2 separate regions of the Homo sapiens genome follow, and region 2 is linked to region 1. The links come from fine-mapping of genetic effects on gene expression. A gene starts in region 1. The other region holds a variant in brackets. All regions are shown on one strand. Distances are between the middles of the regions. Region 1 holds the start of PRRG2 (proline rich and Gla domain 2). Region 2 overlaps CPT1C (carnitine palmitoyltransferase 1C).

Region 1 (4,390 bases):
TTTTGAGACAGAGTCTCACTCTGTCGCCCAGGCTAGAGTGCAGTGGCGTGATCTCGGCTCACTGCAAGCTCTGCCTCCCGGGTTCACGCAATTCTCCTGCCTCAGCCTCCTGAGTAGCTGGGACTACAGGTGCCTGCCATCATGCCCGGCTAAGGGGTTTCACCGTGTTAGCCAGGATGGTCTTGATCTCCTGATCTCATGATCCGCCCGCCTTGGCCTCCCAAAGTGCTGGGATTACAGGCATGAGCCACTGTGTCTGGCCTATTTTTAAATACTTAAAAAAAAAAAGAAAGAAAACAGAAGCAGGTAAAATGAGACCACAAAAAAGCAAACGGGACAAATTCAGATGGTGGGATGATCAACTGAACTAGAATTAGTTTCTTCAATGAATCGATTACACCAAGAAATAACCAAAGTGGAGTGGAAGGGGGAACAGTTCTAAATTAAGAGAGATGTAAAAGACGATAGCAATTACTTAACTATATCCTGATTCCAACAAACCCACAGTTACACTGGACTTGACTCTGCACCACGTAATGGATAGTAGTCTAGAATTACGGTTGTTCTTTTAAAGTGTGATGATGGTATTGTGGTCATATCAGCAATGTTTCTGGTTTTTACACACGCACCCTGTTAGATAAAATTTATAGAAGGTCATTGGTTTGGATTGAGCTCCTGCACTAGGTTCAACAGACCAAACCAAAATGGAGACACTCATGCTAAAGTTCCATGCTTCCAAGCCAAAACTAAGTTGATATCTGATCTTCTGAGATATCAGGAGAGAGATAATAGCCAAATCCCCAAACAACCCAGTTTTAGCCCACCTGATAAAGGAAGTCCCCTCTACTTTAACCTTTAACTTAGAAATTTAATCAAGTTAATCAATTTAATCAACTAGCTTTTTGTTTTCCGTTTCTGATTTTCTCAGCCCTTTGTCTCTGAAAACAACCTCTGCTCAGCTCATCGGAACACTCACGCTATTTTCCATAATTAGATGTTGTTTGATTGTAGATTCACGAATAAATGCCAATTAAGATCTTCTCACTAAATGTGTTGCAATTTTGTCTTTTGACAATCCTTAAGTGTCATGATGCCTACGATTTGTTTTAATCTCTTTAAGTTTAAAAAAATACAGCAAGTATGGCAAAAATAATCATTGGTGATTTGGGTGACAGGAATTCCTGTATTCTTCTCTCACTTTTATATAAGTTTGAACATTTTCGTAAGAAAACATTAACATCAAACTGCCTCAAGGACCGTTCAAGCCCCAAGTTCACAGAATTAGCAGCACAATCAGAATGGGAATCCATGACTGCCTGACCCCGAAGCTCCACACAAGAAAACGTGAATCCCTGCACCAACCCCGAAAGGGAAGGGGCTGTCAAAAAGGTGAAGAGAAGGTGGCGATGGATGACTGCACAATCTAGTATCGCCCGCCGTCCCACCACAGTCTGAGAAACTGAGGCCAGGAAAGGAGTTCTCCCTCCTCAACTCCCACTCCTTAGACCCCCAGCAATCCCAGTCCACTCCTTCCCTTGGGACCACCAGCAAATAGCCATCATCTACAGCAGAACTGTAACTCTCAGGAGAACTGGCCGATGCTAGCTACCACTTGACTGAGTTTATAGTGAGAGAGAGAGACAAAGAGAGAGAGAACTGCCCGATGGACGGTTGGCCACCTCCAGCAGAGTGTAGTTCAGCTTCAAACTTGGGGCGCCCGGACAGCTGTATTAATAATGATTGACAGGGAATCGGGAATCCAAAATCTTGCCCCAGTCTCCCTCAAGACCCCAGGCCTCTAGCCCGCAGGAAAGCGATCCCAGCAACACTCTTCCTGCACCGCCTCGAACTCACCTCACTAACGACTCCCAGTCCCTCGGTCGCTTCTTCAACTGTGCCCCGACACCGGAAAGGAGCACTATTTTCCCCCTCCGCTCCGCCCACTTCCGCCCAGCAGAAGGCACCGGAAGTAGAGCTGCCCCTAGTTGCGGAAGTGCCTCGCCTGGCTTGCTCAAGTCCTCTCTTCTCTTTCTCTCTCCGGAAACGTGAGTAGCTAATCGAAAGTTCCGGATATTGAAACTGGTGGGAATATGGGGAACGCTTACTATGTACGAGGCATTTCCCAGGGAGATCGTTTTTTCCTGCTTGGTTCCCAGGTTTTGAGTCTCTCCAAGCCCAAATTTAAGGACTAATCACTTCCCCTAGAGATCGGGAAGCCCACTTTCCCAAATATATCATCCACTTTTCTTGCTGCATCTTAAAACAATTGAGAAGAGACAACTACGCTCCCATTTTACAGACAGAGCCATTGGGAAATTGAAAATCAAAGCCGTTCAAGTCGCTCTCAGGAAACAGGGATTTACTGCGGCACTGCCCAGCTGTCCCAGGGACTAAGGCATATCGTTCCCGCTAGTTTCTAGATACCTAGAGACCTAGATATTAATTTTTCTAGCTCGGACAGACGAACTCCCAGGGGAGAGCCAGAGCGGGTAGGGGTCGGGAGGGAGGAGGAGGGTCGAATCTAATCCCCCAGGTATCCCATGGTATTCGACACCTTGGCTTCCTCATGGAGCTCTGGCCTTTAAGTCCTTTATCCCAAGGTCCCTTTAAATACTTTGTCCCTTACCTGAGTCCCGCCCAGGGCAGGTAATGGCAAGTTCCGCCCACCTGCCAGAAACGGGGATCAGGCCTGGTTACCGGGAGTGGGGCGCCCCTCCTCCTTATCCCCTCCCCTCTTCCCTGTCCCCTTTCACAGCTGGCTGTAGCTGGCCAAGGAGTTCTCGATTAAAGAGGAAGGGGCAGTGCTCACATTTCTGGGCAGGTAAGTGAATGTCCCTGGAGGAAGAGCCTGGCTTGGGGACCCAGGCATCCTGGCTCCCCGCCCCTCCGAGACCCAGAAGTTTGGGGCTCCTAGGCCCAGGAGTCCAGGGCCCCTGCCCACTTAGGTCCCTAGACCCAATAATATAACTAATCCCCTGCCTCTGCCTCTCTCGTAATCTTTGTTGTCTGTGGGTGGATGTGACAATGAGCACAGAAAGAGGCACAAGTGGAAATTACCAGGAAGGGAAGACTCCAGATCACCAGTGGACATGTTTATAAGCATCTGTGTCAGGTGCTGTAGACACAGTGGGGAAAGAAAGATAAGCTGCCTGCTCCTTGCTTTCTTCTCTGGCGGACACTGCCTTCACTGAAATCCTGGCTCTCACACTTGCACACTGTGTGACCTTCGGCAAGCTATATTACCTCTCTGTGCCTCAGTTTCCTGTTCTCTATACTGGGGATAATAATAGGACTCCTGGTCGGGCGCAGTGGCTCACACCTGTAATCCCAGCACTTTGGGAGGCCGAGGCGGGTGGATCACTTGAGGTCAGGAGTTTGAGACCAGCCTGGCCAACATGGTGAAACCCCATCTCTACTAAAAATACAAAAAATTAGCCAGGCGTGGTGGTGCGCACCTGTAATCTCAACTACCCGGGAGGCTGAGTCAGGAGAATCGCTTGAACCCAGGAGGCAGAGGTCACAGTGAGCTGAGATAGCGCCACTGCACTCCAGCCTGGGTGACAGAGCGAGACTCTGTCTAAAAAAAAAAAAAAAAAAAAACTCCTGTGAAAAGTTTTGTTTTGTTTTGTTTTTGACATGGAATCTCGCTCTGTCACCCAGGCTGGAGTGCAGTGGCACAGTCTCGGCTCACTGCAACCTCTGTCTCCCCTTTCAAGTGATTATTCTGGCTCAGCCTCCCAAGTAGTTGGGATTACAGGCGCCCACAACCACGCCTGGCTAATTTTTGTATGACTCCTGTGAAAAGTAAAATGAGTTGAGGCCGGGCACAGTGGCTCACGCCTGTAATCCCAGCACCAGCACTTTGGGAGGCTGAGGCAGGCAGATCACTTGAGGTCAGGAATTCAAGACCAGCCTGGCCAACATGGTGAAACCCCATCTCTACTAAAAATATGAAAATTCACTTTGGGAGGCTGAGGCGGGCAGATCACGAGGTCAGGAGATCGAGACCATCCTGACTAACACAGTGAAACCCCATCTCTACTAAAAATACAAAAAAATTAGCCGGGCATGGTGGCCGGCACCTGTAGTCCCAGCTACTCGGGAGGCTGAGGCAGGAGAATGGCATGAACCTGGGGGGTGGAGTGTGCAGTGAGCGGAGATCACACCAATGCACTCTAGCCTGGGTGACAGAGCGAGACTCTGTCTCAAAAAAAAAAGAAAATTAGCGGGTGTGGTGGCGCATGCCTGTAATCCCAGCTACTTGGTAGGCTGAGGCACGAGAATCGCTTGAACCCAGGACACAGAGGTTGCAGTGAGCTGAGACTGTGCCACTGCACTCCAGCCTGGCTGACAGAGCGAGACTCCATGTCAAAAAAAAAAAAAAGTAAAA
Region 2 (4,390 bases), 120 kb after region 1:
CTGTCCCTCTCTCTCTGGGTCTCTTCCCCCTCTCTTTCTGGGTCTCTGTCCTCCTCTGTCCCTGGGTCTCTGTCCCCCTCTCTCTGGGTCTCTGTCCCCCTCTCTCTCTGTGTCTCCGTCCCCCCCTCTGGGTCTCTACCCCCGACTCTCTCTGGGTCTCTGCCCCCCTCTCTCTCTGGGTCTCTGTCCCCCTCTCTCTGGGTCTCTGTCCCCTGTCTCTGGGTCTCTGTTCCTTTCTCTCTTGGGGTCTCCGATGCTCTTAAGTCTCTGTGTCCTTCTCTTTGGGTTTCTGTCCCACTGTCGACCCCTGCCCCGTCAACTCCCTGGCTCCGGTGAGGGGTTAATGACCCGGTAACTCCTCCTCCCCAGGCCCTGGTCCGCATCTTCTCTGGCCGCCACCCGATGCTGTTCAGTTACCAGCGCTCCCTGCCACGCCAGCCCGTGCCCTCTGTGCAGGACACCGTGCGCAAGGTGGGCCTGGGAGCGCGCAGACGGGCTGGGGCGGCCGGGGCGGGCCGGGGGCGTGACCTGCCCTCTTCTCCCCTTTAGTACCTGGAGTCGGTCCGGCCCATCCTCTCCGACGAGGACTTCGACTGGACCGCGGTCCTGGCGCAGGAATTCCTGAGGCTGCAGGCGTCGCTGCTGCAGTGGTACCTGCGGCTCAAGTCCTGGTGGGCGTCCAATTATGTGAGTCCCGCCACCGCCACCAACGCCCCACCTGAAGGGCTAAGGTTGTGAGCTCGCCTGCTAAACTTGCGAGTTATACGCCCTGCCCCACGACACGCCCACAACCCACACGCCCCCAGCCCCCAAGGGTCAATACCCTGAGCCCCGCTCACATACATCTATATCCTAACCTCCACATTTATATATATATAAAAATATATATGTATATATATTTATTTATATATAAATATATAGTGTATATATAAATATATATATTTATTTATAAATATATATATTTATATTTATATACAAATATTAATATTTATAAATTTATATATAAATATATTTATATATAAATTTATAAATAAATATATAAATATTATAAATATATTAAATATATTTATTTATAAATTATAAATATATATTTATTTATAAATTATAAATATATATTTATTTATAAATTATAAATATATATTTATTTATAAATTATAAATATATATTTATTTATTTATAAATTATAAATAAATATATATTTATTTATAAATTATAAATAAATATATATTTATTTATATATAGGCTTATATATTTATTTATATATATATGCTCATAACATATATATGCTCTCTCTATATATTTAATGTTGAAGTTTGGGGTATAGATGCTCCAGTATTCTGAGCTTCACCCTTGATCTTCCAAAGTTTGAACCAGAATTCCAGGACTTAGCCCTGGTGCAATGTCTCACGCCTGTAATGCCAGCAGGTTGCGAGGCCAAGGCAGGCGGATCACGTGAGGTCAAGAGTTCAAGACCAGCCTGGCCAACATGGTGAAACCCCGTCTCTACTAAAAATACAAAAATTAAACAGGTCTGGTGGCGCACACGCCTATAATCCCAGCTACTCGGGAGGCTGAGGCGGGAGGATTGCTTGAACCCAGGAGGCAGAGGTGGCACTGAACTGAGATCGCGCCACTGCACTTCGGCCTGGGCCACAGAGCAAGACTCTGTCTCAAAAAAAAAAAAAGAAAAGAAAAAAAAAAAGACAAAACCAAAGGAGTTGAATGGTGAGGAGTGGTGGGAGAGGCCTGAACTCCAGACTGAGGATCCTGGACTCTTTCCTGGGGGTACTAGGGAGCCATGGGAGGGTTTGGAGCAGGGAAGGGGCAGGGTCAGCTTTGGTGTGGGGGAAAGACTGGAGGGCGGGAGGCTGCAGAGGAAGCTACCGTGAGACCTACCATTGTAGGTCATTGAGACACTGGGCTGGGATGAGAAAAGCTGCAGCAAGAGTGAGAGGGGAAGGGAAGAGGGTCCCCGGCAGAGCCCCACGAGGCAGCTATGTGGAAGCCTCAGTTGGTCAAACCCAGCGAAGGGGACGAAATATCTGGAGAAGTAAAAGGGAATGCAGGCCTTGCTTTTCTGGTTAAATATTTTTTTCTTCACACTTTTGGACAAGATTCTGTTTACACACACACACACACACACACACACACACTCATTTCTTTCTTCCCTTCCTTCCCTCCCTCCCTCCCTCCTTTCCTACCTTCTTTCCTGCCTGCCTGCCTGCCTTCTCTCTCTCTTTCCTTCCTTTTTTTCTGTCTCCTTCCTTCCTTTTTTTCTTTGAGATGGAGTCTCACTCTGTCGCCCAGGCTGTAGTGCACTGGCACCGTCTCAGCTCACTGCAAGCTCTACCTCCCAGGTTCACGCCATTCTCCTGCCTCAGCCTCCCATACCTGGCTAATTTCTTTTTTTTTTTTTTTGTATTT[T/C]TGTATTTTTAGTAGAGATGGGGTTTCACCGTGTTAGCCAGGATGGTCTCGACCTCCTGACCTCGTGATCCGCCTGCCTCGGCCTCCCAAAGTGTTGGGATTTACAGGCGTGAGCCACCATGCCCGGCCTCTTTCTTTCTTTCTTTCTCTATCTTTCTCTCTCTCCCCCTCCCTCCCTTTCTGTCTCTCTCTCCTCCCTCCCTCCCTCCCTCCCTCCCTCCCTCCCTTCCTTCCTTCCTTCCTTCCTTCTCTCTTTCTCTCTCTTTCCTTTTTCTTTCTTGGAAGGGGTCTCACTCTGTCACCCAGGCTGTAGTGCAGTGGCGTGATCAAAGCTCACTGCAGCCTTGACCTCCCAGACTCAAGCCATCCTCCCATCTCAGCCTCCTGAGTAGCTGGGACTACAGGCATGTGCCCCTAAGCCTGGCTAATTTTTAAATTTTTTGTAGACATGGGGTCTTGCTATGTTGCACAGACTGGTCTCAAACTCCGAGGCTCAAGCTATCCTCCCACCTCAGCCTCCCAAAATGCTGAGATAAGAGGTGTGAGCCACTGCGCCCAGCCTGTATATTTTATTGTACCTCCAAGCCAACTGCCAGTGACACACGCACCATTTTTTTATGTACAACAACAACAACAAAAAACCCTACAAGAGCAGCTAAACCGTGACACAGTGCTTTCTTTTGTGTTTTTCATTGTTTGAATTTTATCATGGTATTGGCAAGGCCACAATTTTCATGTATTTACACATATGTATATTATTTCACATATTTATTGTTTTATAAATTTTACATTTATGTTCTGTTTTTCTTTTTTGGGGGGGACGGAGTTTCACTCTTGTTGCCCAGGCTGGAGTGCAATGGTGCGATCTCAGCTCCTTGCAACCTCTGCCTCCCCGACTCAAGCGATTCTCCTGCCTCAGGCTACCGAGTAGCCGGGATTACAGGCGTGCACCACCACGTGTGGCTAATGTTTGTATTTTTAGTAGAGACAGGGTTTCATCATGTTGGCCAGGCTGGTCTTGAACACCTGACCTCAGGTGATCCACCCGCTTAGCCTCCCAAAGTGCTGGGATTACAGGCGGGAGCCACCGTGCCCAGCTGTACCTTGTTATTTCCACCAGCTATGTAATATTCCACTGCCGGAGTATAACAGGGTTTAGCTAACTGATCCCCCATGGATGGATTTCTAGGTGATCGCTAGTTACTGACTACGATGGCTGACTTCTTTGGCTCTATCCTCCCTGCCTGACGCAGGAGCATCTGGGGCCTTCCCTGTCCTACTGTCCCTCCCCCAACAGGCCCCAGCCCCTCACTGTGTGTCTCCCCACCCCGCTCCCAGGTCAGTGACTGGTGGGAGGAATTTGTGTACCTGCGCTCCCGAAATCCGCTGATGGTGAACAGCAACTATTACATGATGGTGAGAAGGGGAGGGGTGAGGTTCATAGGCCCCAGGTCTAGGGTTGGGGGGTACCTGGGCGGAATGTGACGGTCATGCTCAGTGACCTGGATCTAGACGCGCCATCTGGGATTCATCATTCCACCCTCTTTTGGGGTCAGGACCTGTATTTGGGTCAGTGGCTCCATCGGGGGCAAACCTGACCCTGGGTGTTTTGCCATCCCCTCTCCTGGTCCCCAGGACTTCCTGTATGTCACACCCACGCCTCTGCAGGCAGCTCGCGCTGGGAATGCCGTCCATGCCCTCCTCCTGTACCGCCACCGCCTGAACCGCCAGGAGATACCCCCGGTGAGAGGGCCCCAGTGGGTTAGGGATGGAGGTGTGGTCCTGTGGCCTTTGGGCCACGTGGGTCCTGGAAGGCAGCTCACAGCCCACGGTTTCCTGCAGACTTTGCTGATGGGAATGCGCCCCTTATGCTCTGCCCAGTACGAGAAGATCTTCAACACCACGCGGATTCCAGGGGTCCAAAAAGGTGAGACCCTCTCCTGTCCCCACTGATGGAGGCAGAACA

The links. PIP is the estimated chance that this variant, and not a neighbour inherited with it, causes the effect.
Region 2: its variant is fine-mapped to the expression of PRRG2 in whole blood (INTERVAL, PIP above 0.99).

What each region holds. Positions count from the first base shown.
Region 1 is chr19:49,578,661-49,583,050 of GRCh38, forward strand. It overlaps PRRG2 (proline rich and Gla domain 2), which reads left to right and starts at 2,656. Exons shown (of 7, transcript NM_000951.3): 1 at 2,656-2,821. NOSIP (nitric oxide synthase interacting protein) reads right to left here and starts at 1,896. Exons shown (of 9, transcript NM_001270960.2): 1 at 1,855-1,896.
Region 2 is chr19:49,700,948-49,705,337 of GRCh38, forward strand. It overlaps CPT1C (carnitine palmitoyltransferase 1C), which reads left to right. Exons shown (of 20, transcript NM_001199753.2): 6 at 370-471; 7 at 550-687; 8 at 3,763-3,840; 9 at 4,060-4,167; 10 at 4,267-4,351. Among named protein-coding and RNA genes, the nearest start is that of CPT1C, 12 kb to the left of the region's middle. The variant T/C (reference allele first, on the strand shown) is at 2,425.